Linked DNA regions of Homo sapiens: regions 2, 3, 4, 5 and 6 are each reported to be linked to region 1. Evidence: microRNA targets listed by miRTarBase, many of them from high-throughput screens and not tested one by one. Region 1 holds a microRNA gene; each other region holds the end of a gene's coding sequence.
What was found. Region 1 holds the annotated microRNA hsa-miR-1304-5p (UUUGAGGCUACAGUGAGAUGUG, at 1,451-1,472, shown strand). A microRNA usually pairs through its seed, bases 2 to 8, with sites in the 3' UTR of a target mRNA and lowers its output. Matches are read on the target gene's strand: a 7mer-m8 pairs with bases 2 to 8, a 7mer-A1 pairs with bases 2 to 7 and ends in A, and an 8mer does both.

Region 1 (5,072 bases):
CAGATAGGTGCAAAAAATAAATCCTCTTTTGCAACCCAGAACTCATTGTTCAGTATGAGTTTTGATACATATAAGAAGGGATATTATGATACCTGAGACAGTTGATTGATGGGAGTATTGATAGCCATAAAGGTTGGTTCCAGGCCAGGTGCAATGGGTCAAGCCTGCAATCCCCACACCAAGGTGGGAGTATTGCTTGAAACCAGGAGTTCAAGACCAGCCTAGGCAAGAAAGTAAGAAACACATCTCCACAAAAATTTAAAAATTAGCTGGGTACTGGGGCATGTGCCTGTAGTTGGAGTTACTCAGAAAGGGGGGAGGCTGAGGCAGAGTTGGAGGCTGCACTGAGCTTTGATGGCACCACTGTACTCCAGCCTGAGTAACAAAGACAGACCCTGTCTCTTAAGAAAAAAAGGTTGATTCCAGGCCTGTAGAATAGATAAACAGCATGGGATATGAGGGAAATCCTCAGCAGTATTAATTTTGCATTCCAATTTCATGTTGATGATATACACAATGGCTTTTTGTTTTAAAGGCTTTTATCTTGAGAACATGGTGTCTGGAGTTAAAGGTATGTCTCAATTTGAGTTTTCACATCATATTTGTTTATGTGTAGGAAACAGTATGTTGTCAGAGCAAGTTTCATTTTATTCAGGGACATTTCTACCATGCTTTTAATTCCCATTTATACTGATTTCTGAAAAGAAGAATCCTAGATTCACACATTTTATAGTGATGTGTCAGATTCATTTTAGTTGCAAGCATTAGAGGGTCCTGAATTTGTTAGTTTGTAGCAATAATCAGAACTTTGGATTTCCTACTTGAAGCCTACAGCATTATTTTGAATTAATGCACAATCTAAAATGAGGCAGAGGATTTTATGGTTTAATGCAAAATATAGTATAATAAAAGATGATTACACAGGTCATAAGAATTCATAAATTTGAATGATGTAGAGTTTGATTAAAAGTTATATAATGCCAAAGTCGTAACTTACAGGCACATTATATTCCTGTATTTTATAATGGATGACAATTAATTTTGAGCCAAGAATTAAAATTTGCTGAAATCTTCGAATTGGGAAAACAACATCCTCTGTTGCAATACTGAAGTTCATAACAACAGTTAGACTTTAAACTTAAATCTTAAGTTTAAATCTTTTTCCTTTGGTTCATGTAAAGGAGCTACTTGATGTTACTTTTTATTTATCATTCCTCTGGCTCCTAAGCACAACGTGATTGTGAAATTATTGTTTTTGTGATTAACGTAGTAGGAAGTTTCTGCAGTTGGCAATATTGTAAGAGCATATTGCAGTTTCTGCTCATAATTTCTTTCCTATGGAGTGTTAGACTTTGTTATTTATGTGTATAAATACTAGCTGGACACAGTGGTGCCTGTGGTCCCCAGCTACTCTGGAGGCTAAGGCAGGAGAAACACTTGAGCCCAGCGGTTTGAGGCTACAGTGAGATGTGATCCTGCCACATCTCACTGTAGCCTCGAACCCCTGGGCTCAAGTGATTCAGCAAGAATCACACGATTTTTAAAAGACATGGCAGATCCTGTGTCTTTAAAAAAAAATCAAAACCTTGTAAATAGTGGTTGAGGTCTATCCCGATGGGGCTTTTCCTGTAGCCTGCACATCGTTGGAAACGCCTCATAGAGTAACTCTGTGGTTTTACTTTACTCACAGGACTATTGTTAGATCTGTGGGAAGGAATTACAAGACAGTTGCTAAAAGTTTGAAAAAGACGGTTGCTAAACGTTATGAAAAACCAGATAATCTACTTTTTTACCTTAGGTATTGGCATACTCCACACATCTGTACCATTCTTGAGTGATCGCTTAGGTAAGTTTTAATTGGTGACAGTATAATCTTTTGGGAAATAATGATTACAGTTCAGATGATGAATTTAACTGTTCAACTGCTGAATGATAACGGGCATGAACTAAAACTTAATTCTGACAGAGCTGGATATGGCTGTATAATAAACTGGATCTTAAATTTATACTTGGGTTTTAGTTTTAATAACTGGAAATGTATCCTTTCTAAATCTTTAATTGGTACTTTCTATAGGAATGAATGTGATTTGAACTCATTCATGTTGAGAGGTAAGTAAAATATTTAACTTATAATAATCAAGGACTCAAAAGATGAAAAATAGAAATTACACCATCCCAGTATTTCAGGTATAACACAGAATTAGTAAGATACTGGCAAAAATATTACAATGTATATATTTGTATAGAGAAGGAAAATGAAGAGACTGCATGTCTATACCTACCAAACGAAACTACCTGTGTTCTTTGCATCATTATTCAACTGGCAGTTACACATATTTCATCCTAAAGTCACGTAAACCTGTGTGGATATGTTGAATCAATAGGGATATGAATTACATAAAAAGAATTTTGTGTAACTGGCAGTTTGAGCAACAATGAGCTTGACGTTTGTTGTCTGATCTGTTAAGTTACATGTATATATTCCATCTTTAAGTTTTATAGAGAGACTGGGCAAAGATTAGGCAAAGACTAGAGTTGTAGCTTAAAATGTAGTTAATGTAGCTTCCTTATTACAGTGACAATTAGGAAAAAAGCTCAAATTATTGTACTTGTTAAAGGAATTTGAGAGGTTTGTGAAAGCATTTCTCAGCAATATTGCAAATTTGGGAATACGAGTTGTACAGTTCAGTCATAATTGCACTGCATGGTATCTGCACTCAGCAGTTTACACCTGCTAGGGTGTTCAAAGGTCAGTGCTATAGAAATTCAGTATCTGGCATCGTTGGTTTTCTTGGCTTTGTGCTTGTTAAACCTGGTATTTCTACTGATACAGTATTTGTGTAGGTTTCTCAGAGTGTTCAGTTTGATATACTCTAAAATAGTAAGCAATGCTTTTTTTTCCAGGGTGTCAAATTGAGAACCAGGTAGATCCCCACCACCTACAGTAAAAAGGTAAGATTCTCTGTTTCTATTGATTCTGCTTGTTTCCCTCTATCAGTAGCACTGCCAGCATAACAAGAACTTCGTACAAATACACTACTAAGCTTTAAAGACTTTTACAATGCCTCATTCTAGAGAATGGGCACTGTTGATCATGGTGTCCAAAAATAGTTAATGTGGCTAAATTGAGACAGGTTATGCTTCCATCACAGTATGCATATTGCAGTGGTGACAATGAGACCTGTAACATTTTGCTATGTTTATGAGTAAAAATGTAGGAGAAAAATGTTGACTTTTCAATATTAGAAATAACATTTAATAAGGAATTTTCAGCTCTTATAGGACCACTTTTTTTATGTGCTGTATATTGACTGAAACATTGTAATGTGGTATACATTACTGTGTCTTGGATCAGGTGTCAAAATGTAACTGTACTTTGTACAATTCAACTTCTAGGACCCTAAAGTAAATTGGTTGAAGAAATTAGATCCCAAAGATTCTTGGTAAGTTAATTCATTACTTAAAAGGCCATGCAGGTTATTTTGTTGAATACTAGCTTTTCTCCAAATGTTATTTTAGGTTATTTATTTATCTAGCAATGCTATTGCAACATCTATCACCACTTAGGAGTAAAAAAAAGGACTAGGCTTACGTTATTATGTGTTTAAACTTCATTATTAACGATGTTATGATGATGGGCGAAATGTTCAACTGCTCTGAAGGGGCTGAATGAAAATGGCCTTTCTGAACATCCATTTACATTAAATATTGCATTGTATTTCAGAAGATTATAAAAGCTCAAAGGTAAAAGTTACCAGAAACATGATCATAGAGCAAATTCGGATATGAATGGGCATGGGATCATTGATTTTTAAAAATACCTATTAGTTTAAATAGCTATTTTAAGCATAGAATTTTCAATACCTTACTTGGGGTGCCGGGTTTCAGGATACTTTGGAACCTAAGCAACCTCATTCTTGAAAGATAGATTTATGTACTTAATAGTAAATATAAATTTGAAATACACATTTTTCCACAGGTGAATTTTGAAGTCTTCATCAGTATATCCATATTAAAACGAGATGACAGAAGCCAAAGTAATTATGGCAAGTAATGGTTTTTATCTTAACTATAAGTTATTTGCTCAAGGGTGTAATGGTCATTACCAAGGCTTTTAGAATGCAGTTTCTCATTTGCTGTGGACATGACCATAAAAAAATTTCCCAGTAGGTTTTCTATCTGCTACTTTGCTAGCAATCAGCTTATTGGGAACAGTTGATTAACTGTAATAGAAATGCAATACAAATAAAATGTGAACCACATGTGATTTTTCTTTAAAATCAGTGAGATTTGAAAATTCTCCTAGATCTCTTGAATCATGCAAATTTGCTTTGCCTTTATATTGTAACCCTTGTGGGTTGCTAATAACCAAGCAGTTTGTAGTAGAGTTAACTCAGGCTCGTTCTAGGGACTCATTCATGTTCACTCACTGTACACTCATCTCTGGAAATGTAAAATTTACTTTTATACTATTGTTATGTAGGGCTGACAGGACAACTGGATCAGTTTCATTAAAAAGGTATGTATGCATTAGAAAAGACATTTGTATGGGTCATTTCAAAGAGGGCTTATGAGGCTGTGAAACCCAGAGCTCTTAACGCTGTGACCAAAGATGGAAGTTCTCTATAGGAAGCCATAGCACTCCTAATGTTTGGTGCTATGTTTTCCTGAGGAGATATAAAACGTAATAATCCAGGATTGTTGCCATGTGAGAGTTTTAAAGGTTAATCAAAATTTCTCTTCTTCAGGGCAAACTTGAAGATAAATCTTTTGACTCCAGCTCTTTAGAGGATCTAAAGTGACCTTGATGGACAGTGGAAGAAATCACAACATGGAATTCCTCGAATAACAATTTATTGACTTTAAATAATTTTGTCTAATGCTACATATACACAATTAAAAAACCTTTACACTATTTCTAGAAAGTCAGCATGTATTTTTGGCTCGAAGTTTCTCTAGTGTTTTCTGTGGAAGGAATAAAAATTTGAGTTTCAGTTGTGTACTTCATGCTTGAAAAATTAAGTCCTTCTCCCTCAGTTATACTCACCTTATGGAATTCTTTTGCCCTTGCT
Region 2 (5,073 bases), not on the chromosome of region 1:
CCTCCCCAGGTGCCAGATGCCCCGCACAGTTGCGCCCCTCCTTTCCCTGCTCCCATCACTTCCCCCACAACGATTTCCACACAGAACTCATCCATCTGGCAAAGGCTCTGGGGATTTCCAGGCTTTGGGGTTCCGCCTGCCTCTGCCGGGAACACCCTGACTTCCCTGCCTGCCCACTCCTGGTTATCTAAGGCATAGCAGGGCAAGTGCCCACGAAGCCTGCCCCCATCCCTTACTTAGAAGACACCAAGCCCCTGCGGCATCTCCCTCCATAATCTCTCAGGAGCTCTTCCTCTTTGAGTTCTCACAGTGGGTCACCTCTCCTAGAGTATCCAGCCTGCCTGTCTGTCTCTCTGGCTGCGGTCACCCTGAGTGCAGGGACCTGACTCCCCCGTGTCCCCCCTACCCCCAGGTCCCCCGATCAGAAGCCTCTGCCTTCGGCGCCTCCCACCACGTGGCCTACTTTGAGGCCTCGGCCAAACTGCGTCTCAACGTGGACGAGGCTTTTGAGCAGCTGGTGCGGGCTGTCCGGTGAGCCAAGTCCCCTTCCTGTCGTCCTTGTCCCCAGCCCTTCCACTCCAAACTCACTGGCGTTTTCCCACAGGAAATACCAGGAACAAGAGCTCCCACCGAGCCCTCCCAGTGCCCCCAGGAAGAAGGGCGGGGGCTGCCCCTGCGTCCTCCTGTAGCCCAGGCAAGAGAGAAGCAACCACCACAAGCTCTCGGGACTAGCTGCCTTCGCACCTTGCTGTGTGACCTGAGGCCCTCACTGAGCCTCAATTTCCTCATCTGGGTCTCCCAGGACACATCACATACCCACCCTTACTTCCTGGCCTCTTCTGGGCTACTGCCACTGTGTGCCTTCTGCCAACGCCTCCTGTCCCCACCTAAGCCTGGTGGGGGTGAGGGGCTCCGGGTCACTGCTGTATATAACTCCCCTCCCCCAGAAAAATAAATGTCACTGCCAACGTCAGGAGGTGCTTTCTAAAAAGGTAATGAGGGTCGGGCACTGTGGCTCACTCCTGTAATCGCAGCATTTTGGGAGGCCAATGCGGGAGGACCGCTTGAGTCCAGGAGTTTTTGACCAGCCTGGGCAGCATAGCGAGACCCCCATCTCTTAAAAAAAAAGGGTGGGGGAATGAACTCTGGGAAGGTGAACGAATTCAGGGCACACATGTTCTAAGGCCTCCCTCCACCTAGAACCCTCGCATCTAGAACCTATTGCTTGGGGAGGAGCAGAAGAAGTTTATAAAGCATAACCAAGTGCCTAGACCCCCCACTTTCCCTTCAACAGGGCGATTCTACCCTTTTCTGTTTGTGTGTGTGTGTGTGTGTGTGTTTTTCTGAGATGGAGTCTCACTCTGTAGCCAGGCTAGAGTGCAGTGGTGTGATCTCAGCTCACTGCAACCTCCGCCTCTTGGGTTCATGCCATTCTCCTGCCTCAGCCTCCCGAGTAGCTGGGACTACAGGCGCATGCCACCACGCCCCCAGCTAATTTATTTTTTGTATTTTTAGTAGAGGCGGGGTTTTACCATGTTAGCCAGGATGGTCTCAATCTCTTGACCTTATGGGTATTTTCTTGGGATAAACTTTGAACATCTGATGAAGGAATTTTTTTTCCTAGAAAGTTATAGAATGCGCTCTTCAATATGGTAGGCAGAAGCTACATGTGGCTATTTAAATTAAAATTAAATAAAATTTGGCTGGATGCAGTGGGTTATGCCTGTAATCCCAGCATTTTGGGAGGCTGAGGTGGGCAGATCGCTTAATCTCAGGAGTTCGAGACCAGCCTGGGCAATAAAGTGAGACCCCCCCCCGCCCCCATCTCTACCAAAAATACAAAAATTAGCTGGGTGTGGTGGCACATGCCTGTAGTCCCAGCTACTCAGGAGGCTGAGGTAGGAGGATCGCTTGAGCCTGGGAGACAGAAATTGCAGTGAGCCAAGGTGATGCCACTGTACTCCAGCCTGGGCGACAGCAAGACTGTCTCAAAAAATAAATAAATAAAAAATAAAAAAAATAAAAATAAAGGCCAGGCGCGATGGCTCACGCCTGTAATCCCAGCACTTTGGGAGGCCCACGCGGATGGATCACCTGAGGTCGGGAGTTCAAGACCAACCTGACCAACATGGTGAAACCCTGTCTCTATTAAAAATACGAAAATTAGCCGGGCGCATTGGTGGGCGCCTGTAATCCCAGCTTCTCAGGAGGCTGAGACATGAGAATAGCTTGAACCCGGGAGGTGGAGTTTGCAGAGAGCCGAGATTGTGCCATTGCACTCTAGCCTGTGCAACAGAGCGAGACTCCGTCTCAAATACAACAACAACAACAAAATAAAAAATATTTTAATAAAACTTAGTTCCTCAGTCAAATCAACATTTCAAGACCTCAGTTGTCACATGTGGCTAGTGACTTTTTTTTTTTTTAGACAAGAGTCTCGCTCTGTCACCCAGGCTGGAGTGCAGTGGCAGGATCTCCAGTTGCTGCAACCTCTGTTTCCTGGGCTCAAGTGATTCTCCTGCCTCAACCTCCTGAGTACCTGGGACTACAGGCGCATGCCACCATGCCCGGCTAATTTTTGTATTTTTGGTAGAGACGGGGTTTCGCCACGTTGGCCAGACTGGTCTGGAACTCCTGGCCTCAAGTGATCTGCCCACCTCGGCCTCCCAAAGGGCTGGGATTACAGGCGTGAGCCACCGCACCCAGCCTCTAGTGGCTATCTTAATAGATAGGGCAGATAGACAACATTCCTATCATTGCTGAGTGGGCTATTGGATAGTGCTTTCTAGAACATTCCAATAGAACGTTCTAGGACATTGGAGACAGGCAGCAACTCAGCTGGGTGTGGTAGCTCACGCTTGTAAGCCCAGTACTTTGGGAGACCGAAATGGGTGGATCACTTGAGGCCAGGAGTTTGAGACCAGCCTGGGCAAGAGCTAGACTCTGTCTACAAAAATAGAGACAGGGAGCAACTGCTACAAACCCTGCCTGTCCCACTCTCACCTTCAATGTATATCGAGAAGGGACAGGTGGGTGGAATGGTGTCCAAGCAGCCGTCTGGCAAGTCCTCATTTTCAGAAAGTTCCCAGTAGCACTGAAATCTGAATCTAAACACTTAATCCAATTTGGGGTCAGTGTGGACATCCCCCATCCAACCCCCTATTCTGTCCTGGGAGAAGCAGAAGTGTTGGGTGTCTTAAGGCCACAGTGGGTAAATGGATGACACACTTCAGTCTGGATACCCAAAGCCCATCTGTGTCCTAGGAACACTTCGTTTTTTACATTTTATTTATTTATTTGAGACAGGGTGTCACTGTGTTGCCCAGGCTGGAGTGCAGTCGCGTGATCACAACTCTGTAGCCTCAACCTCCTGGGCTCAAGCAATCCTCCTGCCTCAGCCTCCCAAGTAGCTGGGACTACGAGTGCACACTTGGCTAATTTTTCATTTTGTTGTAGAGATGGGGTCTCGCTATGTGGCCCAGGCTGGTCTTGAACTCCTCCCTTTAAGCAATCCTCCTGCCTCGGCCTCCCAAAGCTCTGGGATTTACAGGCATGATCCACCATGCCCAGCCTGGGGACACTTAGGACTCTCCCACATCCAACCTAAGCTCTGGTTGGGGGAGGAGCAGTCCTGCCCACTATTTGCTACCCTGGAAGGCTGAAGCCAACTGGAGACCACTGTCCACCCACCTCCCAAGCCTGTGTGACCGGCCATCTTTAAAGCCCCAAATCTACCCAACACACCAGGCTAAAAACCTCAACCGGCCGGGCGCGGTGGCTCATGCTTGTAATCCCAGCACTTTGGGAGGCTGAGGCGGGTGGATCACAAGGTCAGGAGATCGAGACCATCCTGGCTAACACAGTGAAACCCCGTCTCTACTAAAAATACAAAAAATTAGCTGGGCATGGTGGCAGGCGCCTATAGTCCCAGCTACTCAGGAGACTGAGGCAGAAGAATGGTGTGAACCCAGGAGGTGGAGTTGCAGTGAGCCGAGATTGCGCCACTGCACTCTAGCCTGGACGACAGAGCGAGAGTCCATCTCAAAAAAAACAAAAACAAAACAAAACACCTCAACCGAGATGTCCCGATGCCCTGAACTTGAGGCTCCACCTGAAACCTATCAGCAGTCAAACATCTGCTCCCTATACCCAGGCCCCTGATCCCTGAATGCTCTACTCGCACCCACCCTGGAACCTGCTTCCTAGTCCTAGGGTGGAGCATGGCCTTTGCGTGACCGGGATGCCTGAATTCAAATCCAGCTCTGCCACCTCAGTCTCATCTGTAAAATGGGGGTAAGTACAAAGCTACTTCACAGGGTGAGCACGAGACTAAAGGAGACGATTGCAGAGGAGGAATGAGCCCGGCGCATACTAAGTGCTCACCATCAATGACTGTGGCTGACATGTCTCCATTCTGCCCCAGAACCATGAATGTCCCTCTGTATCCCGGATTAGAACACGGATTAGCAGGCTGGGCGCAGTGGCTCACGCCTGTAATCCCAGCACTTTGGTAGGGCAAGGCGGGCGAATCACCTAAGGTCAGGAATTCGAGAGCAGCCTTGCCAACATGGTGAAACCCCCCTCTCTACTAAAACTACAAAAATTAGCCGGGTGTGGTGGCGGGCGCCTGTAATCCCAGCTACTTGGGAGGGTGAGGCATGAGAATCGCTTGAACTCGGGAGGCAGAGGTTGCAGTGAGCTGAGATCGTGCCGTTGCACTCCAGCCTGGGCAACAAGAGCGACACTCTGTCTCAAAAAAAAAAAAAAAAAAAAAAAAACTGATTAGCTAAATATCCCTTTCCGGGTTCTATTATCACAGAATCTTTGGCCTGTTCTCAACCTTCTGCCCTGGGAAAAAGTACAGCTCGGATGTACTGTCACATGTTGGCTCTCTTCCCTGCTAGGAACTCTGCACACCAGGGGTCCACCCCTGCTGGATGGGGAGTGGTGGGGCAAGAGGGTGGGCAATGTTTTGATCAGTTTCCAAACAAGCTCTGACACTTCCACCTAAGCCCCAGCTGCGGGTACTGAGCCCCCAACAGGAAGGAGTCCTGTGCCAACATCTCTCTTCCC
Region 3 (5,071 bases), not on the chromosome of region 1:
TTTTCGTAGAGTTTGGGTGTTGCTATGTTGCCCAGGCCCAACTCTGGGCAAGTGATCCTCCTGCCTCAGCCTCCCAGAATGCTGGGATTACAGGTGTGAGCTACTGCTCCAGGTCTAAATCTACCCATTTTTTAATTGGGTTGTTTGATTTTTATTACTGAATTTATTTACTTATTTATTTTTGAGATGGAGTCTTGCTCTGTTGCCCAGGCTGGAGTGCAGTGGCACTATCTCAGCTCACTGCAACCTTCGCCTCCCAGGTTTAAGTGATTCTCCTGCCTCAGCCTCCCGAGTAGCTGGGATTACAGGCGTGCGCCACCATACCTGGCTAATTTTTGTATTTTTAGTAGAGATGGGGTTTTACCATGTTGGTCAGGCTGATCTCGAACTCCTGGGCTCGTGATCCACCTGCCTTGACCTCCCAAAGTACTGGGATTACAGGCATGAGCCACCACGCCTGGACTTTATTACTGAATTTTTGAGAATTCTTTATACAGTCTGGATGCAAGTTCTTTATCAGATATATAAATATTTTCCTCTAGCCTGGCTTTCCGTGCCACCACCCCGCCCCCCCTCGCCCCACCCATTTTCTTAACAGTTTCTTTGAAAGAACTATCAGCATCCTTTTAAGAAATAAATAGAACTTTAGGTAAACATAATCCATTGCATCTTAGCATTCATTTTCCGGCTGGGGTTGGAATTCCTCATGCTGATTTTGAAAAAACCATTAGTTCAGTTTGTTTCTGTTTTTATTTTTATTTTTTTCAGTTCAGATTTTAAAAAAGAACTCCCCCACTTATTAACCAGATTTGAATTTGGTTTGTTTTTCAGGAAATTGGATACACTCACATGAAAATAGCGGAAGGAGTGAACTCTCTTTTGCAGATGGCAGGCCTCCTGGCAAGGCTGTGTCAGAAGACAATGGCCCCGGTGGCCAGTTAGAGCAGAGACTTCACTGACTGACTTACAGGTGCCCTATTCTGAGGTACAGGAGCCGCGGCTTTCTGATGGGGGAAAATGCCGCCTTAGGCTGGAGCCAACATGACTGTCCTTTAAACTCCAGTGGCTGGCCAGGCACGGTAGCTCACGCCTGTAATCCCAACACTTTGGGAGGCCGAGGCAGGTGGATCACCTGAGGTCAGAAGTTCAAGACCAGCCTGGCCAACATGGGGAAACCCTGTCTTTACTAAAAATATAAAAATTAGCTGGGTGTGGTGGCGGGCACCTGTAATCCCAGCTACTCGGGAGGCTGTGGCAGGAGAATCGCTTGAACCCAGGAGGTGGAGGTTGCAGTGAGCCAAGATCACACCATTGCACTCCAGCCTGGGCGACAGAGTCTCCATCTGGGGAAAAAAATTAAATAAATAAACTCCCGTGACTTGCATGTTTGCTTCTGGGACGTCTGTGCCCCGCAAGTGTTTGAGTTTGGCCTCCACCCCATTGATGCGGTGACGGGGCGGAAAGGCGCAGAGAAGCTGAGGGCGGTCTCTGATCTGTGTGTGGGTTGACATTTTAGCTAATAAAGCCTTGCAGTGTTTGTTGGCAATAAGGTGACCATGTGAAGCCTCGAGAAAAACCAGCTTCCTGTCTCTACGGGCCTTGGCAGCCTACAAGTAGAAAAGGCGATTAGATAGTAGACCCACAAGCTCATCTCGGTTCTTCTAGAAGCCTGAAGGCGCCACTTCCCCAGGGCGAGGGCAGGGTTTGCTGTCTTTCCTATTTAGACTGATTTCTCAGAATGGCCAGGTGGCGAGCCTTTCAGAGAGGGCGGCAGAGTGGAGAGATGCAGCCCAGCCCTCAGGAAAACACCGTGATGCTCTTCCTGTGTTCTAGACCATACTCTTTGCGCTTGCTTTAGAATTCCCCAAAGAATTTCGTACTAATTTGTAGAATTGCCTTTTTTTTTTTTTTGGTAAGATACTATTTTTTTCCCTTTTTGTTTTGTTTTGATTTTTGAGATTGGGTCTCACTCTGTCGCCCAGGCTAGAGTGTAGTGGGCCAATCTTGGCTCACTGCAGCCTCAACCTCTTGGGCTCAAGTGATCCTCCTACCTCAGCCTCCTGAGTAGCTGGGACTACAGGCATGTACCACGATACCCAGCTAATTATTAAATTTTTTGTAGAAATGAGGTCTCACTATATTGCTGGGACTGGTCTCGAACTCCTGGCCTCAAGTGATCCTCCCACCTCAGCCTCCTAAGTGCTGGCATTACAGGTGTGAGCCACCATGCCTGGCCCATTTGGGCACGGTGGCTAAAATACGAAATACTAAAATACGAAATTAGCTGGGCATGGTGGCGCACGCCTGTAATCCCAGCTACTCAGGAGGCTGAGGCAGGAGAATTGCTTGAACCCAGGAGGTGGAGATTGTAGTGAGGCAAGATGGTGCCATTGCACTCCAGCCTGGGCGACAGAGCGAGACTCTTACAAAAAAAGGAAGAGAAACTTGTCCCTGAGGTTGTACAGTCAGGACTTCAGGATGTGAAGTAACAGGTGGGCGGCAGTTGGGTTCTAGATGTTTCTTCTGATTTCCTAACTTGTCGCATTAATTTCTTCTCATGGGAAGAGTCCCTGGGCCATCCCAGAAAGACGGCTGGACTTGGGAACTAAGATCCCATCCGCAGCCCTGATGCTCTCAGGGTCCCTTTTTATTAAACAAGAGCTGTGGCCGCCATTCCCTTAAGGCTTTTTGTGTTTGGTTATGTTTTTTGAGACAAGGTCTCCCTCTTTCGTCCAGGCTGGAGTGCAGTGGTGCGATCTCGGCTCACTGCAAGCTCCGCCTCCCGGGTTCACGCCATTCTCCTGCCTCAGCCTCCCAAGTAGCTGGGACTACAGGTGCCCGCCACCATGCCCGGCTAATTTTTTTGTATTTTTATTAGAGACGGGTTTCACTGTGTTAGTCAGGATGGTCTCGATCTCCTGACCTCGTGATCCACCCACCTCAGCCTCCCAAAGTGCTGGGATTACAGGCGTGAGCCACTGTGCCTGGCCGTGTTTTGTTATGTTTTTTGAGACAAGGTCTCCCTCTTGCCCAGGCTGGAGTGCAGTGATGCAATCATAGTTCACTGCAACCTTCTGGGTTCAAGTGATTTTCCTGCCTCAGCCTCCCAAGTAGTTGAGACTACAGGCATGCACCACCAGGCCCGGCTAATTTTTATATTTTTATAAAAGGTTTTTTACCTGAAGCAGGAGAAAGGAGACACAGGATAATCACTGCTTTTCAACTAAAATGGTTTTATTGAGATGTTTTGGTTGGAGGAGATACTTTTTCTGGCAACATTTCTGACTCAAGGTCCCTCTGGGCCCCAGCTCTTCCCATGAGACAGTCACAACACTGTTTAATCAGCTCTGCAGAGGCCAGCCCTGGAGCAGAGGAGGATTCAGGGCCATGGAGGGGACCTACTCTGCCCTGTTCTGGTCACTACTTCTCTAGACTCTCATGCACTATTGTCTGTAGCAAGTGACATTTCCACTGGAAGCACATAAAGATGGCGACAGCCTCATTTCTTCCTGAGTGAACTGAAGCCCAAAGAAAGGGGAGGTCCCACCAAAGGGGAAGAGAGCCAGGGCCCCACCCAACAAGGATGCTGAAATAAACTACATGTAATGCTTTCTAGGAGACAACACAGAAATCTCTACTCTGAAATCCAGAATGTTAAATATGGCTCCCCCTCTATAAGTTAACTGTACAAGCTTATCAATCATTTAAAACCCCAGCAACCAACAATAGCAATTAGGAATCCAAATTCATAGCACAAAAGAACACAGATACCAGTGTTGGACAGTGGTTTTGTTATGGGGACTGGGTGACAGCTTATCCTAAATCCTGCGCATCCGTCCATACCAGGAGCCGGGTTACCCTTGGTACCAGGTGCCTGCCCCACAAAGCCTGGGTCGGGAGAGGGCTTGGTGACGGGCCTGCAGCTCCCGTGAGTAACTGTCTTTTCCCAGGCTGTGCACGCATGGCCAGGTGGTCCTCAGGGTGGCTGGTTCTCCTTCCAGGAGCAACCATGGCAGGGGCTTAAAAGTTGAGTAGCTCTGGGAAATGGTCCTTGGAAGGCAGCGATGGGTCCATGAGCACAGTGGTCCCTCTTTGCCTTGGCTCCTTAAATGAAGAGGAAAGTTTGTAGAAGGAGGTTTGCCTTGATCAGTATTTTGTTCCTGAGAACCATAACCACTGGTTTGGGGACACCATTGAGCCTGCCTCCTGGCTGAGAACAGAAGCCGCACATCAATAACTGGGTTTCTTTTTTTTTTTTTGAGATGGAGTCTCACTCTGTCACCCAGGCTGGAGTGCGGTGGCGCGATCTCGGCTCACTGCAAGCTCCGCCTCTCAGGTTCACGCCATTCTCCTGCCTCAGCCTCCCAAGTAGCTGGGACTACGCCACCACGCCCAGCTAATTTTTTTTTTTTTTTTTTGTATTTTTAGTAGAGACAGGGTTTCACCATGTTAGCCAGGATGGTCTCGATCTCCTGACCTCGTGATCCGCCCACCTCGGCTTCCCAAAGTGCTGGGATTACAGGCGTGAGCCACCACGCCTGGCCCATTTTGTTTGTTTGTTTTTGTGTTTTTGAGACAGAGTCTTGCTCTGTCTCCCAGGCTGGAGTGCAGTGGCGTGATCTCGGCTCACTGCAAGCTCTGCCTCCCGGGTTCACGCCATTCTCTTGCCTCAGCCTCCCAAGTAGCTGGGACTACAGGCGCCTGCCACCATGCCCGGCTAATTTTTTGTATTTTTAGTAGAGACGGGGTTTCACTGTGTTAGCCAGGATGGTCTCGATCTCCTGACCTTGTGATCCGCCCGCCTCAGCCTCCCAAAGTGCTGGGATTACAGGCGTGAGCCACCGCGCCTGGCTTTTTTTTTTTTTTTTTTTTTTTTTTTTTTAAGACGTAGTTGCCCAGGCTGGAGTGCAATGGTGCGATCTTAGCTCACTGCAACCTCCTCCTTCCAGGTTCAAGTGATTCTCGTGCCTCAGCCTCCCGAGTAGCTGGGATTACAGGCACACGCCACCACACCTGGCTAATTTTTGTATTTTTAGTAGAGATGGGGTTTCCCCATGTTGCCCAGGATGGT
Region 4 (5,062 bases), not on the chromosome of region 1:
CAACACTAAGGACACCCCTCGGGCCCTGAGTGCCAGCCGGGGGCTGTGGACGGCGGCTGAACCAGCGCCAACACTCAGGCCCTGTGCTACCTTCTCTTTGCCTATAATGTCTTCCTTTGTCCTCAGTTAAAAAAACCAATACTTGGTTTGCTTTAAATGACAGCACATGTGAACAGTGTAACTGCTTTTGCCTTGAAAAGGGAGAGGCATTATTTAGGCTCCAGTAACTTCTCTGATAAGGGCCCAGTGTGAGGATTTTGTGTTGAGTTAAACCCTCAAGATTTTGTTGGGAAGTGAAATTGACACGGGTGGCTGGATATCTTTAGGTTCCAGCATTCACATGACCACGTGATCAATAATTCTCCGTTGAAGTTGTTACGCTGGGCTGCATTTTAAAACCCACGTTACCGTGATGGTGCTGAGTTGGGGGAACACACTCCTGCACCCAGAACAGGGCTGCGTTTTCCTTTTGGGCTGAGCATCTTCTGACCCCCCTCCCTTGTATCCGGCAGGTGGTTCTACCCAGGCAATAACCCCTACACTGGGACCCCCGACTGGTTGTATGCAGGGGATTACTTTGAGCGGAATTTCTCCGACTGCCCAGATATCTACTGAGGGCCTGGAGGGGCCTGGGGCCCGGGACCGGAGGCTGACGAGGCTGGACTTCCTCGAGTGGCCACTGTGAGCCTCGTCACAGCAGAAACCAACTTTTCTAACGACTGAGTTCGCGGAGATAGCATCATCCCTGATCAAGGATGTAATTCTAATTAACTGTTGATTGCCAAACATTTCACTCTGCTGTGCCGTCTCTTCATAAAGCTTCACTTGGGATCATCGTCTTCATTAAGGTTTCAACAGGGAAATTCTTCACGGCGCCCTTTTATGTGGCAGAAATCAGCTGGGGCTTGTTTAGCTTCCAGCACACTCTCAGTCATAGCATGTGTAGCTAAAGGAAGTAATGGGAAGGGGTTCATGTTCTCTTTATAATGCAGTGGCAAAAGGTTCTGAAAGCCTTTTAAACTCGAACCAGTGGGGGAAAGATGGATCTTGAAGCTAATCCTGCAGAGAGTTTTATAGAGGCCAGGGATTGCCTTCTAAATTATGATAAAACAGAAGTGAAGAGTTTCAGAGCATCAGATTGAGTGAAAAGTTGTCAGATTCTGTATTTTTTAACAATCTTCAATAATGTAAAGATTACTTTTAAAATATTTAAGTTAAAACTACTTGAATAGTATTTTGCTGAAGAGCAAGATATGCATTAATCACCGGTTTTATACTGTCCAAAATGAAGCATCCCCGTGACAAACCAGAGTGGGCAGAAGCATCGAGAGCGTGACAGGAAATCCCAAGACTGCTTCCGCCTCAGAGGCGTCCCGGCTGCGATTCGCTGCCCTGTTGTCAGTGAGGCCTGGCTGTCACCGCACACCGCGTCCGTGTCTCCAGGGGGTTCCTTTCTTCTCACACGTCGCGTGTACCCATAGCACTCTTGTGTTTCTGTTTTTCCCAGTATGCATGTTTAAAATAGAAGTGACAAGAATCACATCCGGTTGTGTCCTGTGGGAGGGTCAGAGGCAGAATCTACTTACAGTGGTGTAATTAAAGTTATTTAACCAAAAATAGGTATGTGTCCATCTCAGCATTCACCTTTATCAAGTGACTGATTTTTTTTTCTTTTCTTTCCTTTTTTTTTTTTTTTTGAGACGGAGTTTCACTCTTGTTGCCCAGGCTGGAGTGCAATGGCATGATCTCGGCTCACCGCAACCTCCGCCTCCCGGGTTCAAGCGATTCTCCTGCCTCAGCCTCCCAAGTAGCTGGGATTACAGGCACGCGCCACCACACCTGGCTGATTTTGTATTTTTAGTAGACACGGGTTTTCACCATGTTGGTCAGGCTGGTCTCAAACTCCCGACCTCAAGTAGTCTGCCTGCCTCAACCTCCCAAAGTGCTGGGATTACAGGCGTGAGCCACTGCGCCTGGCCGTGACTGATTTTTTTTCATGTAGAATTGTCAACACGAGAGATCACAGTGGAGCACTTTGAAAGACCGTCGGTTGTGTGCACGCACGCACACACTCATGCACACGCTGACACGCGGTTGCATGGAGTCCAGGTTACTCAGGCCGGCACTTCTGAGTGACAGGTGCCACCTGCGTGTGTCTTGGCGTCCACATCACACCTGTGACGGAAGCACTTCTGGAAGTGAACACTCGTTTTGAAAGCTTGATTTTGTAGCTTTGGAAGCTGGAAGCGATGGTGTTTGGTGCCGAGTCCTGTGTCATCCTCGGGGCCTATGAGCTCCGTACCAGCCACTCAAAAGTGTCTGAACAGAACCGCTCCGTGACTGGTAGCTGGGTCTGAGGATTCAGGATTGTGGCGTTATTCAAAGAGGAGACTTTGAAATTCCCCGATGGCTGGAATGTGGAGCCCAGGTGCCTCTGGTGGAGGGTCATCTGCTTTTCCAGACTGTGGTTGTGAACCGGCTCCTTCTCCAAGAAAGGTTGCAAGCTGAGAACATCCAGAGGTGAGACTCAGACACATTGAAAGTGACTGCATTTAGGGAGGTTTAACGAGTTCTTACTGATCATTCCACTTGTTACTGGTTAAGATAATTTGCCCACGGGTTTGTTTCCAAGTCCTCTTCTAGGACCAGGCTCCTGGTATTTCAGGGGCTGGTTGGCTGCACAGACAGCCCCTCTTCTGCTGTCCTTGAGGACAGACACCAAACCAGAGGTGGAGGAAGAACGGTAGGAAGGCTGATGGCAAAAGCGGCTGTGTGTCGAGGTTATTTTAACTTTTTACTACTTTTTGTTACTGTTTCTGCAAATGCTAACACATAAACCATGACCTAACTTTTGTCACCTTGGATATCTATTGAATGTTAAACATCTCTAATAAAGATGGCCACCACTTAATGTGTGGAAAGTGATGGCCTTCTCGTGGGCCACGCGTTTGGGTGTGAGTATGGCCTTGACCAAGGGTCTTGGTGCTTTATTCACTTTTAGAGATAGGGTCAGTTGCCCAGGCTCGAGTGCAGTGGTGCAGTCATAGCTCACTGCAGCCTCGACATCCTGGGCTCAAGCAGTCCTCCAGCCTCAGCCTCCCAAGTAGCTAGGACCATAGGCACATGCCACCAAACCCAGCTATTTTTTTAAAACAATTTTGTAGAGACAGGATCTCACTGTGTTGCCCAAGCTGGTCTTGAACTCCTGGGCTCAAGCAATCCTCCTGCCTCAGCCTCCCAAAGTGCTGGGATTACAGGTGTGAGCCACTGTGCCAGGCCCTTGGTTCTTTTAAAAAATTAATCCTGTCATGTAGGATGTCCTTACAGAATGAAAAACCTAGCAAGCTTATTCCCCAACAGAACCTAATACCTTGGTTGGATTCTATTGCTAATTGAAATGAGAATTCGGTTCTATGGTCATTGGTTCAGGGTGTATGTATTGTGAGCTGCTGGAGACAGAACGGTGAACAGGCATGCCTCCCGGAGAGCCATATGCAAAGCACGGAGAGCCACATGCAAAGCACGTGTTGGCAACATAGCACATGCTGCTGCTCACCAGGCTCACCTGGGATGACGGTGTGGATCTGAGTCGCTGGCCACGTGGCGACGTCTGCCCTGCCCTAGTGTCCAAGGACGGTGAAGGGTCGGGTGTCACCAACACCTGCAGCCTTCTCACCGGGCGAGGCTTGGGTTGTGGGAAGTGGGGGACAGCTGGCCCTGGTCCCCAGCCCTGATGGACATCCGGCATTTTGCTGGTGCAGGCTGTCCTGAAGCCAGACCCTCCCGAGACTGCTGTCTGGGAGGAGAGCGAGCCAGCGGCCCAGATGCCTTGGTCGTGGGGAGGTGCCTGTGTGTACCGTGAGTTTCCCAGCCTCCGGCGGCAAGTGGGAAAGCCGGTACAGGAAGAGTGGTGCCTGCAGGTGCTCCCGGTCACCACCACCCCTTCCAGACGCCATCCCCAGAGCTCACATCTGTGCTGGCTGGAGGGTCAGGGCTCCACTCTGCCCGACAAGCAGTCTGGTGCAGGGGACGCAAATGTCAGACCCAGCAGGGCCCGGCACTTGGAGAAGTGCCACATGCCACCCTGGTGGCCTCCGGGCACCCCACTGTCCACGTGTCTGAGCATGGAGCTGTCCATCTGGGGCATTGGCCTTGAACACCAAGGACCTGCCCCGGTTTGCCAGGCACATCTGAACACAAGGTCAGGAGGTTAGAACAGGACAAGAGAAACGCCTGGAGGCCTCCTCACAAGGCATCCTGCTCTTTGGGGAAAATTTCTCCCCAGCAGAAATGGGGATTTACAAGTTTTACAGGTCCTTGTCATTTCCGTGAAGGAAAACAAAGCAAAGACAGTTACGAGTTCTGGTGAGCTTCCCACTGAGCTGGGCGACAGAGTTCAGGTCTCCAAGTGCCGGGCCCTGCTGGGTGTGACATTTGCGTCCCCTGCACCAGACTGCTTGTCGGGCAGAGTGGAGCCCTGACCCTCCAGCCAGCACAGATGTGGACGAGGGGCGCAGCTGGACCCCAGAGGAGAGTTCGATCCATCTGCAGGAAGTCCTGATGGTCCCAGTTTTCTTTGATGGCCACATCTGGACTTGCCTGTGTGTAAAGTGGACACAAAAGACGGGGCCCCTGCCGTGGCCGAGAACGTGGCGGTGGCTCCTGCTGCTTGCCAGGCAGCACGGGAGCTGGGTCTCCCTCGGACCCCTCAAAAGATGGTTCCTCACCGTCTTCTACAGGCTGATGTAAAATTTCTGTGAGGCGAAAGCCACATTTGCCAGCTCTGGGTACGAAGTTCACTTCACAGTCGGTCCTTCGCTTGGTGAGCTTTGGGAGCCAGGCTGCCGTGGCCAGATGTTTAGGAGCACGACGGTGGCTCTGCAGAGGGCGATGGTGTGCAGCCGGGCTTTCCTGTCGCCCACACCTTGCAGGCCCTCACCCCTCCCCGTGCCTTCACCCAGCTCCTCCTCCAGTGCCATTCATCCCAGCAGGCAGCAAGGACATGGCAGCTGAGAAAAGATGCCAGCAGAACGCACTTATTTTATAATATTTAACAACTGTC
Region 5 (5,073 bases), not on the chromosome of region 1:
GTTTCCTCCTGTGTCCAGGAGTACACTAGATCATCTTAAGATCCCGTCCAGCCCTAAAATCATGTACTTACTTTTTTTTTCTTTTTCTTTTTTAAATAGAGGCAAGGGTCTCTACGTTGGCCAGGCCGGTCTCAAACTCCTGGCCTCAAATGACTCTCCTGCCTCGGCCTCTCAAAGTGCTGGGATTACAGGTGTGAGCCAGTATGCTTGGCCTTTTCTTTTTTCTTCTTCTTCTTTTTATTTTTCGAGACAGGGTCTCGCTCTGTCACCCAGGCTAGAGTGCAGTGGCACAATCTTGGCTCGCTACAACCTCTGCCTGCCGGGTTCAAGTGATTCTTGTGCCTCAGCCTCCAAGTAGCTGGGATTACAGGCACCTGCCACCATGCCCAGCTAATTTTTGTATTTTTAGTAGAGACGGGGGTTTCACCATGTTGGCTAGGCTGGTCTCGAACTCCTGACCTCAAGTGATCCGCCCGCCTCAGCCTCCCAAAGTGCTGGAATTACAGGTGTGAGCCACCGTGCCCAGCTCCCTGGCCTTAAAAGTCATGTAATTTAATGATCAGACCCCAGTCACAGCCATAGGATACAAAGAAGCAAAGGCAAAGAGCCCTGTGTCCTGGGCACGGTTACAGGCCAGTGTAGGGAAAGAGCTTCTGCTTGCCAGTGTGAAGAACAGAGGAGTTTAGGAAGTGTGAGTCAGGCTCAGCTTAGTCAGGCAGAGACCAGTGGGCATGGGTTACCTGGGGGTAACGCGGGCCAGGTGGGCGGGCTGGCAGCCTGGGGCCCATTTCCTGCCAAAGCACCTCTGACCATCCTTCTCTTCACCCAGGTACTACTACAAACGGGAGATCCTGGAACGGGTGGATGGCCGGCGACTCGTCTACAAGTTTGGCAAAAACTCAAGCGGCTGGAAGGAGGAAGAGGTTCTCCAGAGTCGGAACTGAGGGTTGGAACTATACCCGGGACCAAACTCACGGACCACTCGAGGCCTGCAAACCTTCCTGGGAGGACAGGCAGGCCAGATGGCCCCTCCACTGGGGAATGCTCCCAGCTGTGCTGTGGAGAGAAGCTGATGTTTTGGTGTATTGTCAGCCATCGTCCTGGGACTCGGAGACTATGGCCTCGCCTCCCCACCCTCCTCTTGGAATTACAAGCCCTGGGGTTTGAAGCTGACTTTATAGCTGCAAGTGTATCTCCTTTTATCTGGTGCCTCCTCAAACCCAGTCTCAGACACTAAATGCAGACAACACCTTCCTCCTGCAGACACCTGGACTGAGCCAAGGAGGCCTGGGGAGGCCCTAGGGGAGCACCGTGATGGAGAGGACAGAGCAGGGGCTCCAGCACCTTCTTTCTGGACTGGCGTTCACCTCCCTGCTCAGTGCTTGGGCTCCACGGGCAGGGGTCAGAGCACTCCCTAATTTATGTGCTATATAAATATGTCAGATGTACATAGAGATCTATTTTTTCTAAAACATTCCCCTCCCCACTCCTCTCCCACAGAGTGCTGGACTGTTCCAGGCCCTCCAGTGGGCTGATGCTGGGACCCTTAGGATGGGGCTCCCAGCTCCTTTCTCCTGTGAATGGAGGCAGAGACCTCCAATAAAGTGCCTTCTGGGCTTTTTCTAACCTTTGTCTTAGCTACCTGTGTACTGAAATTTGGGCCTTTGGATCGAATATGGTCAAGAGGTTGGAGGGGAGGAAAATGAAGGTCTACCAGGCTGAGGGTGAGGGCAAAGGCTGACGAAGAGGGGAGTTACAGATTTCCTGTAGCAGGTGTGGGCTTACAGACACATGGACTGGGCTGGGAGGCGAGCAAAGGAAGCAGCTGAGACTGTTGGAGAACGCTTACAAGACTTCATGCAAGCAAGGACATGAACTCAGAACACTGAGGTCAGAAGCATCCTGCTGTCATGACACCGCTCGAGTGACCTTGACCTTGACCAAGTCTGTCCTGTTTAGGACTGATTTTTCCTATTAGGCTAGGGTTTGGACCTGATGTTCTCAAGATGTCTAGAATTGCATGGCTGGCCTTGTGGAATAGATGGTTTTGCATTCCAGCCAAGTGTGCTGTAAACTGTATATCTGTAATATGAATCCCAGCTTTTGAGTCTGACAAAATCAGAGTTAGGATCTTGTAAAGGAAAAAAAAAAAAAAACAAAACAAAATGGAGATGAGTACTTGCTGAGAAAGAATGAGGGAAGGAGTTGGCATTTGTTGAAAGTGTAGTCTTTTTCTCTTTTTTTTTTAATTGCAACTTTTACTTTAGATTTAGGAGGTCGTGCGCAGGTTTGTTACATGGGTATATTGTGTGATGCTGAGCTTGGGATGCGAATGATCCTGTCACCCAGGTAGTGAGTATAGCACCCAGTGAAACTGTAGTCTCATGCCAGGCACTGTGCTAGCCCACTCTGGCTCATTTAATCCTCTCCTAAGAAGAGAGGAGACACAGCGTCCCCATTTGACAGATGCAGAAAGAGGTTCCACAGGTGTGCCTTGATTCTGTCCTAAAACCGTTTCCCGGAAGCTTTTCCTGGTGTGGGCGCTTCTAACCTAATCCTCAATCGATTCCAGAACTATTACTCTGTTTCCACAGTGATACTGTGTCTAGGTTTTAGGGAGGACAGTTCATTGATGTTACTTAAGAATGCTTTCCAGGTGGAAAGTTCCTTAAGTTTGAGGCTTCAAATTCCATACAGCACATTAAAATCCCATTCATGAGTTTGAAATACTGCTCTGTTGTCTTGGAAATACCAATCAGATTGTTGGCTGAAGTGATGTGGATAAAGAAGGGATCTTAGAAAAACTAAAGCTTGTGTGTGGATTTCTGGAAATGCAGCTTGCTCTGGAGAAGCAAGGAATGGTGGAAAAGGAGAGTGGGGAAGTTGATTGGAGAGGAAAGTGAGGTCATGAGAGAAACCAGAATCCTGGAGCCATTTGGAAAAAGGCTTTTACTTACATTTCCCTTCTGAAGTGTGAGCCAGTTAGACAAAGGGGATGCGGGCCAGGGCGTAGGTCTAGCCTCAGAAGCTGGGGAAGCTTTCACAGCTACTTAGTCTAAAAATGACCCCATTTCTTGGAAATTATGCATTAGACTCTGGTCTAGTTTCCCTAGCCACAATATCTCGGGGTCCTTGCACCCTTAAAAGAGGTGACCCAGCTGGGCGCGGTAGTTCACGCCTGTAATCCTCGTACTTTGGGAAGCCAAGGCGGGAGGATCACGAGGTCAGAAGATCGAGGCCATCATGGCCAACACGGTGAAACCCCGTCTCTACTAAACATACAAAAATTAGCTGGGCATGCTGGCACGCGCCTGTAGTCCGAGCTACTCAGGAGGCTGAGGCAGGAGAATCACTTGAACCCAGGAGGCGGAGGTTGCAGTGAGCTAAGATCATGCCACTGCACTCCAGCCTGGTGACACAGGGAGACTCTGTCTCAAAAAAAAGAAGAGAGGTGACCCAGTGTGGCCTGAAGTCACCTAGCCAAGAAGTGGGGGAGGGGCCTCTAGAGCCCGGGACATGCTTGTTCAGCCTCCCTTGACTCCCAGCCTCTTCAGCTTCTAAAGGAGATCCTAGCAGGGAGGAGGGCTGGGAATATGGCGCTCAGCCCCTTCACCCTCTTCTGGAGGGCTGGGGGCAGGTGCTGCCCGCTGCGTGCTGACCTTTGCCCTGCCATTTGCAGTTTATGAGGCGCTTTCCTCATCCCATTATCTCATTTGATCCGCCCCACAGCTCGCTGAGGAGACCAGGTGTCCCCATTTTACTGACAAGGCTAGTGGTGGGCTGAAGTCACTGACTGGGTGAGAGCGGGGCCAGCTCACAGCATGCCTGCCTCCACGCTGCAGCTCAGTGAGACCACCTGGGCAGGTGGCCTCTGCAGGGCAGCGCCTGGGACAGCCTGGAAGACGGCAGCTCTGGGAGGGACGCCTTTCTCCCCAACAGTTCTCTGCCCTCTCACCCCTCAGGATGCTGCAGAGTCCTGGCACGGGCCCCTGGGCTGGCCTCCGTGCTGCCCTCTCTGTCGGGCACCAGTCACCCTTACCCCGACTCTCACCAGCCCAGGGGCCTCCTAGCAGGAGACGGCCCGGTCTCTCGCCCACCAGAGTCTGCATCCCCTCAGGTGTGTCCTGGGCTGGGGAGTGGGGGTGGGGAGGAAGCCACAGGGCCGGGCTGTTTATATCCCGCCCTGCCGGAGCTGCTGGTCACCTCTTATCTGCTTCTGTGGGATTGGGTGTGTCGCTGAGCAGGTCAGAGGGAGGTCACCCCTCCCGTCGTGTTTGGGTGTGCCTGAGGAGGGGCTGGGGTTGGCCCCCTGGGACAGTTCCTGGCTTATCCCACAGCCCCACCTGTCCCACCAATTCTGGGGAAGTCTGGCTTCTCCTGGGGGAAGTGGGTGAAGGGGTTGCATTTCTGAGGAGTCTGGTTTCAATCTGCTCTCTCTCTCTGCTGTTGTCTGTTTACACATCTCTCTCTCTCGCCGGGCTGTGAGCACCTCTGGGCAAGTGCTGGGGCTTACTCACCTCAGCACCTTGCACAGCGCCTGGCACAGAGGAGGTGCTCGATAAATATTTGCTAAATGGCCCCGTGACTCTCCCTGCCCTGGCCACTACCTCCCCCACACACCACACACATTCATACACACTCATGGGAACCAAAGTCACACACACTCACACTCACAAAGATAAATATTCACAAGCCCTCACTCACATGCCCCTGCACGCACTGCAGACGCTGCCTGCTCTCACACACTCGCATGGACCGTATTCACAACCTCACACACTTGCACACACCAGCGCACGCAACACACTCCCACCTCACAGTCTCACATAGCCACACCCAGGCCTGCCTGCACGACTCACCTCCTCCCTCGGGGTCCTTCTATGAAGCATTTCCTGACCTCCTCTTTGGCCCTTTTCCCCCACCAGATGGGTTCAGCCCTTGCCTCCAGTCAGGACAGGCCTGGTAATTTGCAGAGCCCAGTGCAAAGTGAAAGCCTGGGCCCTTGTTAAAGAATTATTAGGCTGGGCGCAGTGGCTCATGCCAGTAATCCCACACTTTGGGAGGCCGAGGCGGGTG
Region 6 (5,073 bases), not on the chromosome of region 1:
TCTTGTCAGAGAAAATAATTTCAAGCCTCGCCCTGCCACTCCTTCACTTCTTCAATAATTTCCTGGCTCATTAGTTTCAAAAGCATTAATATTGTTTTGCATGATTGAAAAATGCTGGAAACATTCCAGTTCTCAGAAATTCAGGTAGCCAAACTGGTTTTTCATTTTGTATTTTCCTCCAGGAATATGGTGCTGATTATCACCTTCCAGTCATTCTTAAAAGAAACAATGATTAGAGTCAAACAACTTAATTCAATGAATACATATTGAATGCTTAAGTATTTTTAAAATATCAAGAACCACTTGGAGTTATAAAAACAGATACTCCATAAAGGAGATTAAATAATTAAGCCACATAATTGTGTTTTCCTTTTTTTTTCAAGATGGAGTCTTGCTCTGTCACCCAGGCTGGAGTGCGGTGGCACGCTCTCTGCTTACTGAAACCTCTGCCTCCTGGGTTCAAGTGATTCTCACGCCTCAGCCTCCTGAATAGCTGGGACTACAGGCATGCGCCACCATGCCCGGCTAAGAGATGGGGTTTCACTGTGTTGGCCGGGCTGGTCTTGAACTCCTGACCTCGTGATCTGCCCGCCTCGGCCTCCCAAAGTGTTAGGATTACAGGCATAAGCCACCTCGTCCGGCTGTGTTTTCATTTTTAAAGCACACCACAATTCACCTGAGATCTGGTGGCTAGTATAGATCATTCTCATTGTGATAGCACTGGGAACATTACATAAAACTTCAGGAAGATCAGATGATTGGGCCCTAGTATACCCACTGTGCCTAACAGGCAGCAGCTGTTCATATCACAGGTATGCGGCAAAGTTTAAAACATCATTTCACATGCTTTTTCTCTATACTAGTCCTTTATCTAATTGGGGCGGGGCTGCTATTTCTGCAGGCAGCATCCTATGTGTACAGCAGCTAGAAACAGGAAAGATATATGTGAGAAACAGATAACTCAAGTAATGAGAAAAGCTAATAATAGAATGACCTGCTGTATCAATTCTTTGGTCTCTTGGTGGCTCCATTTAATGAGTTTTCAACATGCTACTCCTGCAAGTCTTCTTCAGGAGCTGCCCCAAGCCACATATATCTGCTCTCTTCTATCATGGAACAGTATGATAAGAAACAGTACACCTTTATGCTGCTAGGTAGGCAGTTTTATTATGCTGTTACATAGAGCTCTTTCCATGAAAAGTGATTTTAACATGAACTGCCCATTCTGCAAAGAGGAAAAATATGTTGAATTAGTTAAATATCCAATTCAAAAGATGTTACAGTAAAATACATGTAAGACTTAACAAAAAAAAAAAAAAAGGACAGAGACACAATTTCTTATCCTCAATTCTCATCTCCAAAAAGCTATGAAAACCAGTTTATTTACAAAGCTTGGTGACAAAACCTGACCAAACTTGATCTGAGGCTCTTTATGATCTTTAGTTATACTTAGTGGGGATGTTCATAAATCACCACAAAAATAGGAGTATATTTGATAATGAGCTGCCATCCCAGACTTTTTTTTAGTAGTTTTGAGTGAAATATTTTACACAGATCCTATTAGTTTTTGAATAGCTCAAAAATTTTGATGCAAAACACAGCTAGACCTAAGTTTTCAAATAAAGGACTGCAAAGCAGTACTTCCCCAAACTGTTAATGATACAGTGATTCTACTAAATTCAAAGACAGTCCCAATAAATATTTTTGTCCCCTTGTATGTCATGAGGATAAATCTCCAGGGAAAAAAAGGGCATGTCAGAACGATGTGCAGGCTGTGTGAAAACTGACACATGATTTTATAAATGATGTAGCTGTAAGACACTGTGTCATTACCAGAAGTTATTCATCCATAAAGATAACATATTGTGTGGTTGCTAATAGTTATCTCCCTAAAACCGAAAAGTCCCATTCTTTTCAAGTGCTTAGATACAGTGCTTTAGGACATTCTTATGTAGTTCTAGTGCTTAGAATATTCTTTTTTTTTTTTTTTTTTTTTTTTTTTTTTTTTTTTTTTGAGATGGAGTCTAGATGGAGTCTCCCTCTGTTGCCCAGGCTGGAGTACAGTGGTGCAATCTTGGCTCACTGCAACCTCCACATCCCAGGTTCCAGCGATTCTCCTGCCTCAGCCTCCTGAGTGGCTGGGAATACAGGCACGCACCACCACACCTAATTTTTTGTATTTTTAGTAGAGACGGTGTTTCACCATGTTGGCCAGGCTGGTCTCGAACTCCTGACCTCAAGTGATCCACCCGCCTCGGCCTTCCAAAATGCTGGGATTACAGGCATGAGCCAGTGCGCCCGGCCCAGGATATTCTTATTCAGTGCTTCTCAATTTGGTTAAGCATTAGAATCTCCCAGAGAGCTTTGTAAAAATACCCATGCATGGGCCTCATTGTCCAACATTCTGACTAACTTGGTCTAGAAAGGGGCCCTGGCAACAATGTTTTAAAAACTCCTTACATGATGATTCAATGTACAGTCAGAGCTTTAAAAAGTCTCAATATCCAGGCTGTACCTTAGATCAGATAAATCAGAATTTTGCAGTGTGAAACCCAGACATCAGTACTTTTTTAAAAACATGCCCTGGTGGCTGGGCACAGTGGCTCACATCTTGTAATAGATCTTTGGGAGGCTGAGATGGGCAGATCACTTGAGGTCAGGAGTTCGAGACCAGCCTAGCCAACGTGGCGAAACCCTGTCTCTACTGAAAATACAAAAATTAGCCGGGCGTGATGGTGCACGCCTGTGATCCCAGCTACTTGGGAGGCTGAGGCATGAGAATCACGTGAACCCAGGAGGCGGAGCTGAGATCATGCCACTGTGCTGGAGTCCAGCCTGGGCCACAGTGTGAGACTCTGTCTCAAAAAACAAACACATAAACAAAAAAAGCAAACATGCCCTGGTGCTTCCAATGTATACCCAAAGTTTAACCCAATTGTTGCAACCCCCTGATCTAACTGGCTTAAAGGTTAAGGGTGTGATTGTTTTTTCTTCTGTCCTGAAGTAAGTCAGTTCTAGATCATCACCATAGTAGGGCCACCAATAAAGAATTCTAAGCATTATCCACTCTGGTGGTGGTGTATTCATAAATCCTTCCCCAGTTTCTTTAAAAAAGCAAAAGGGGCAGGAGGAAGAAGGTACAGAAATCACATGAGAAACATTTAAAAATACTTTTAGTAAAATACTCTGTACCCTGTCAAAACTCCTTTGGCACACAGTAAATCATAGTGAAGAACAAACATAGCAGAATTGCCTTAGTTGAGGCTACAGTGTAAGAGAGAATACAACTTAGAAGGTAATAATAGAAAAATCATAGCATTTTCCAGCAATTGATATGACAGTAAATTTATAAAGAAATACAATAATTTCCCAGTGACTCTTAACTGTTCAGGATGCCAGTGCTAAACCAGGTTGCCATACATAATTCAAAGAAAGCTAGAAAACACATTCCACATATTAAATTGAAGATAATTTTTGTTCAGAGAGCAACTGAAACATATAGTAAGTTATATATTTTTTAGATATAAGATAAAATTCTTTTGCTTTTAGTTAAAATGATTTTTTTCATACATTCTAATGGACATATGAAAAAGATATTTACTTTTTTTCATCACTAACCCTGAGGAAGGAAGAACAAATGTGGAGTAGGCCACAAAACTCACTAGGAACCAATCTCCACACTTTTCCCAATTGTGAATAGCAATTAATGGGAGAAGTTCAGGATACTACACTTGTTTAGGCTCCCATACACATCAGCTTAAACTATTTAAAATAGATACAACATTTGGGCAACTAGCACAGTGGCATTTCTCTGCTTCAACTGAGAACTATTTTAAATATCATCACTTTTATTTCCTACACTGGTTTAAACAAACAAAACAAAATAAGACAAAACTTGACATTGATTATGTAAGAACTTTCAGTTCAATATATAGTAATATGTAGGGACAATATAGCTTCATTGCTCAAGACTTCCATTCAGCAGGAAAAAAATGCATAAGTTCTAGGAATTCTTCTCTTTCACTAGAAAGACGCTAGCTATTACAGGGGAGTTGATGAGAGGAAAATGTGAAATCCCATCTCAATGGAATACAGGAGGAACTGGCATTTCCGCTTTGCCATTACAGTTATTATTCTTAGGATGAAAGTTGGAATTGCAAATTTAGCTGGACTCACCAGTTTCAACCTGTGGAAATGAAATAAAGTTCACCCCCTGGGCCAAAAACCCCAAGCAGCAGTTGGGAGCAAGAGGGCAATAAGAACAGAAGAAAACAGATTCACTGCGTTGTTATCAAGAATGGGTTTCCCTGCTATGTGCCTTGCCTTATTTGTTGGGCTGTTGACCACCATGCCAGTGCTTTCATCCAACCCTGGAATGGAAAAAGAAGCAAGTGAGATAGAAAACCCAAATGACTTCATTTTTTTTCTTTTCTTTCTTTTTTTTTTTTTTTATTATACTTTAAGTTCTAGGGTACATGTACTTGATTTTAAAAAAAGAACAAAATAGGCTTTTTCCTCCAAAGGAGACAATCTTTGAAAGGTTCTAAGTGACTTGCTAAATGACTTTAATGGATCATTTATATGATGAGAGACATGGGACCCTTGATTACAAATGGCCTCTTTGAATAAATGGGTTCTCAGTAATTTTCTGTCAATACCTCTGGAATTGCTTCAGAAGTGGAAGAGAGAACATGAAAAGCAGAGAGGGCATGAAACTGGCAGGTTGGGCCTGCCTTCCCAGTGGTTCCCCTCCAAGACTGATCTATGACGTCCTTGGGAGTAGGGATCATGTCTGTGGCCACAGTACTGTAAACGCAGGGTTGAGCATGGGGCTGGCACAAAGGAGGCACACAAAGATTTACAAAATCTCCCCTACTGCATGCATTTCTTTTCAACCCACTCAATGCAATCAGAAACTTCCCCAGTTAGAACCCAATTTAGAATAAAACCTACACTCTTTAAAAAACATGTTTACTGTCTGTGTGTGCGTGTAGAGTTATTGACCCTTTAGTGAGAATTAAGATCAGATTGCTTCGTCCTTAAAATCTAAATGAGACTAACAAAATGGAGAAC

Region 2: the mRNA of RRAS is a reported target of hsa-miR-1304-5p. Seed matches in the 3' UTR shown: 7mer-m8 at 774-780.
Region 3: the mRNA of RFC2 is a reported target of hsa-miR-1304-5p. The part of its 3' UTR that is shown has no 7-base or 8-base seed match.
Region 4: the mRNA of OSBPL2 is a reported target of hsa-miR-1304-5p. Seed matches in the 3' UTR shown: 7mer-m8 at 1,927-1,933.
Region 5: the mRNA of ELF3 is a reported target of hsa-miR-1304-5p. Seed matches in the 3' UTR shown: 7mer-A1 at 1,213-1,219.
Region 6: miRTarBase lists TMEM19 as a target of hsa-miR-1304-5p. Seed matches in the 3' UTR shown: 7mer-m8 at 3,259-3,265.

What each region holds. Positions count from the first base shown.
Region 1 is chr11:93,730,124-93,735,195 of GRCh38, reverse strand. It overlaps MIR1304 (microRNA 1304), which reads left to right and starts at 1,432; the gene lies at 1,432-1,522. CEP295 (centrosomal protein 295) reads right to left here. Exons shown (of 30, transcript NM_033395.2): 29 at 5,048-5,072; 30 at 4,838-4,965. The coding sequence ends at 4,927. SNORA25 (small nucleolar RNA, H/ACA box 25) reads left to right here and starts at 4,550; the gene lies at 4,550-4,683. SNORA32 (small nucleolar RNA, H/ACA box 32) reads left to right here and starts at 4,097; the gene lies at 4,097-4,217. It also overlaps SNORD6, SNORA1, SNORA8, SNORD5, SNORA18 and SNORA40, and 1 more gene.
Region 2 is chr19:49,631,192-49,636,264 of GRCh38, reverse strand. It overlaps RRAS (RAS related), which reads left to right. Exons shown (of 6, transcript NM_006270.5): 5 at 413-531; 6 at 605-973. The coding sequence ends at 689. Among named protein-coding and RNA genes, the nearest start is that of RRAS, 6.4 kb to the left of the region's middle. RefSeq lists enhancers at 1-70, 3,190-3,689.
Region 3 is chr7:74,227,977-74,233,047 of GRCh38, reverse strand. It overlaps RFC2 (replication factor C subunit 2), which reads left to right. Exons shown (of 11, transcript NM_181471.3): 11 at 832-1,546. The coding sequence ends at 942. It overlaps LAT2 (linker for activation of T cells family member 2), which reads right to left. Exons shown (of 14, transcript NM_032464.3): 14 at 3,214-4,104. Among named protein-coding and RNA genes, the nearest start is that of LAT2, 21 kb to the right of the region's middle. RefSeq lists an enhancer at 3,404-3,683.
Region 4 is chr20:62,293,273-62,298,334 of GRCh38, forward strand. It overlaps OSBPL2 (oxysterol binding protein like 2), which reads left to right. Exons shown (of 14, transcript NM_144498.4): 14 at 513-2,911. The coding sequence ends at 615. Among named protein-coding and RNA genes, the nearest start is that of ADRM1, 7.2 kb to the right of the region's middle.
Region 5 is chr1:202,014,380-202,019,452 of GRCh38, forward strand. ELF3 (E74 like ETS transcription factor 3) reads left to right here. Exons shown (of 9, transcript NM_004433.5): 9 at 830-2,804. The coding sequence ends at 944. Among named protein-coding and RNA genes, the nearest start is that of ELF3, 6.3 kb to the left of the region's middle. RefSeq lists enhancers at 1-51, 3,554-4,322.
Region 6 is chr12:71,700,129-71,705,201 of GRCh38, reverse strand. It overlaps TMEM19 (transmembrane protein 19), which reads right to left. Exons shown (of 6, transcript NM_018279.4): 6 at 155-4,370. The coding sequence ends at 4,207. Among named protein-coding and RNA genes, the nearest start is that of TMEM19, 17 kb to the right of the region's middle.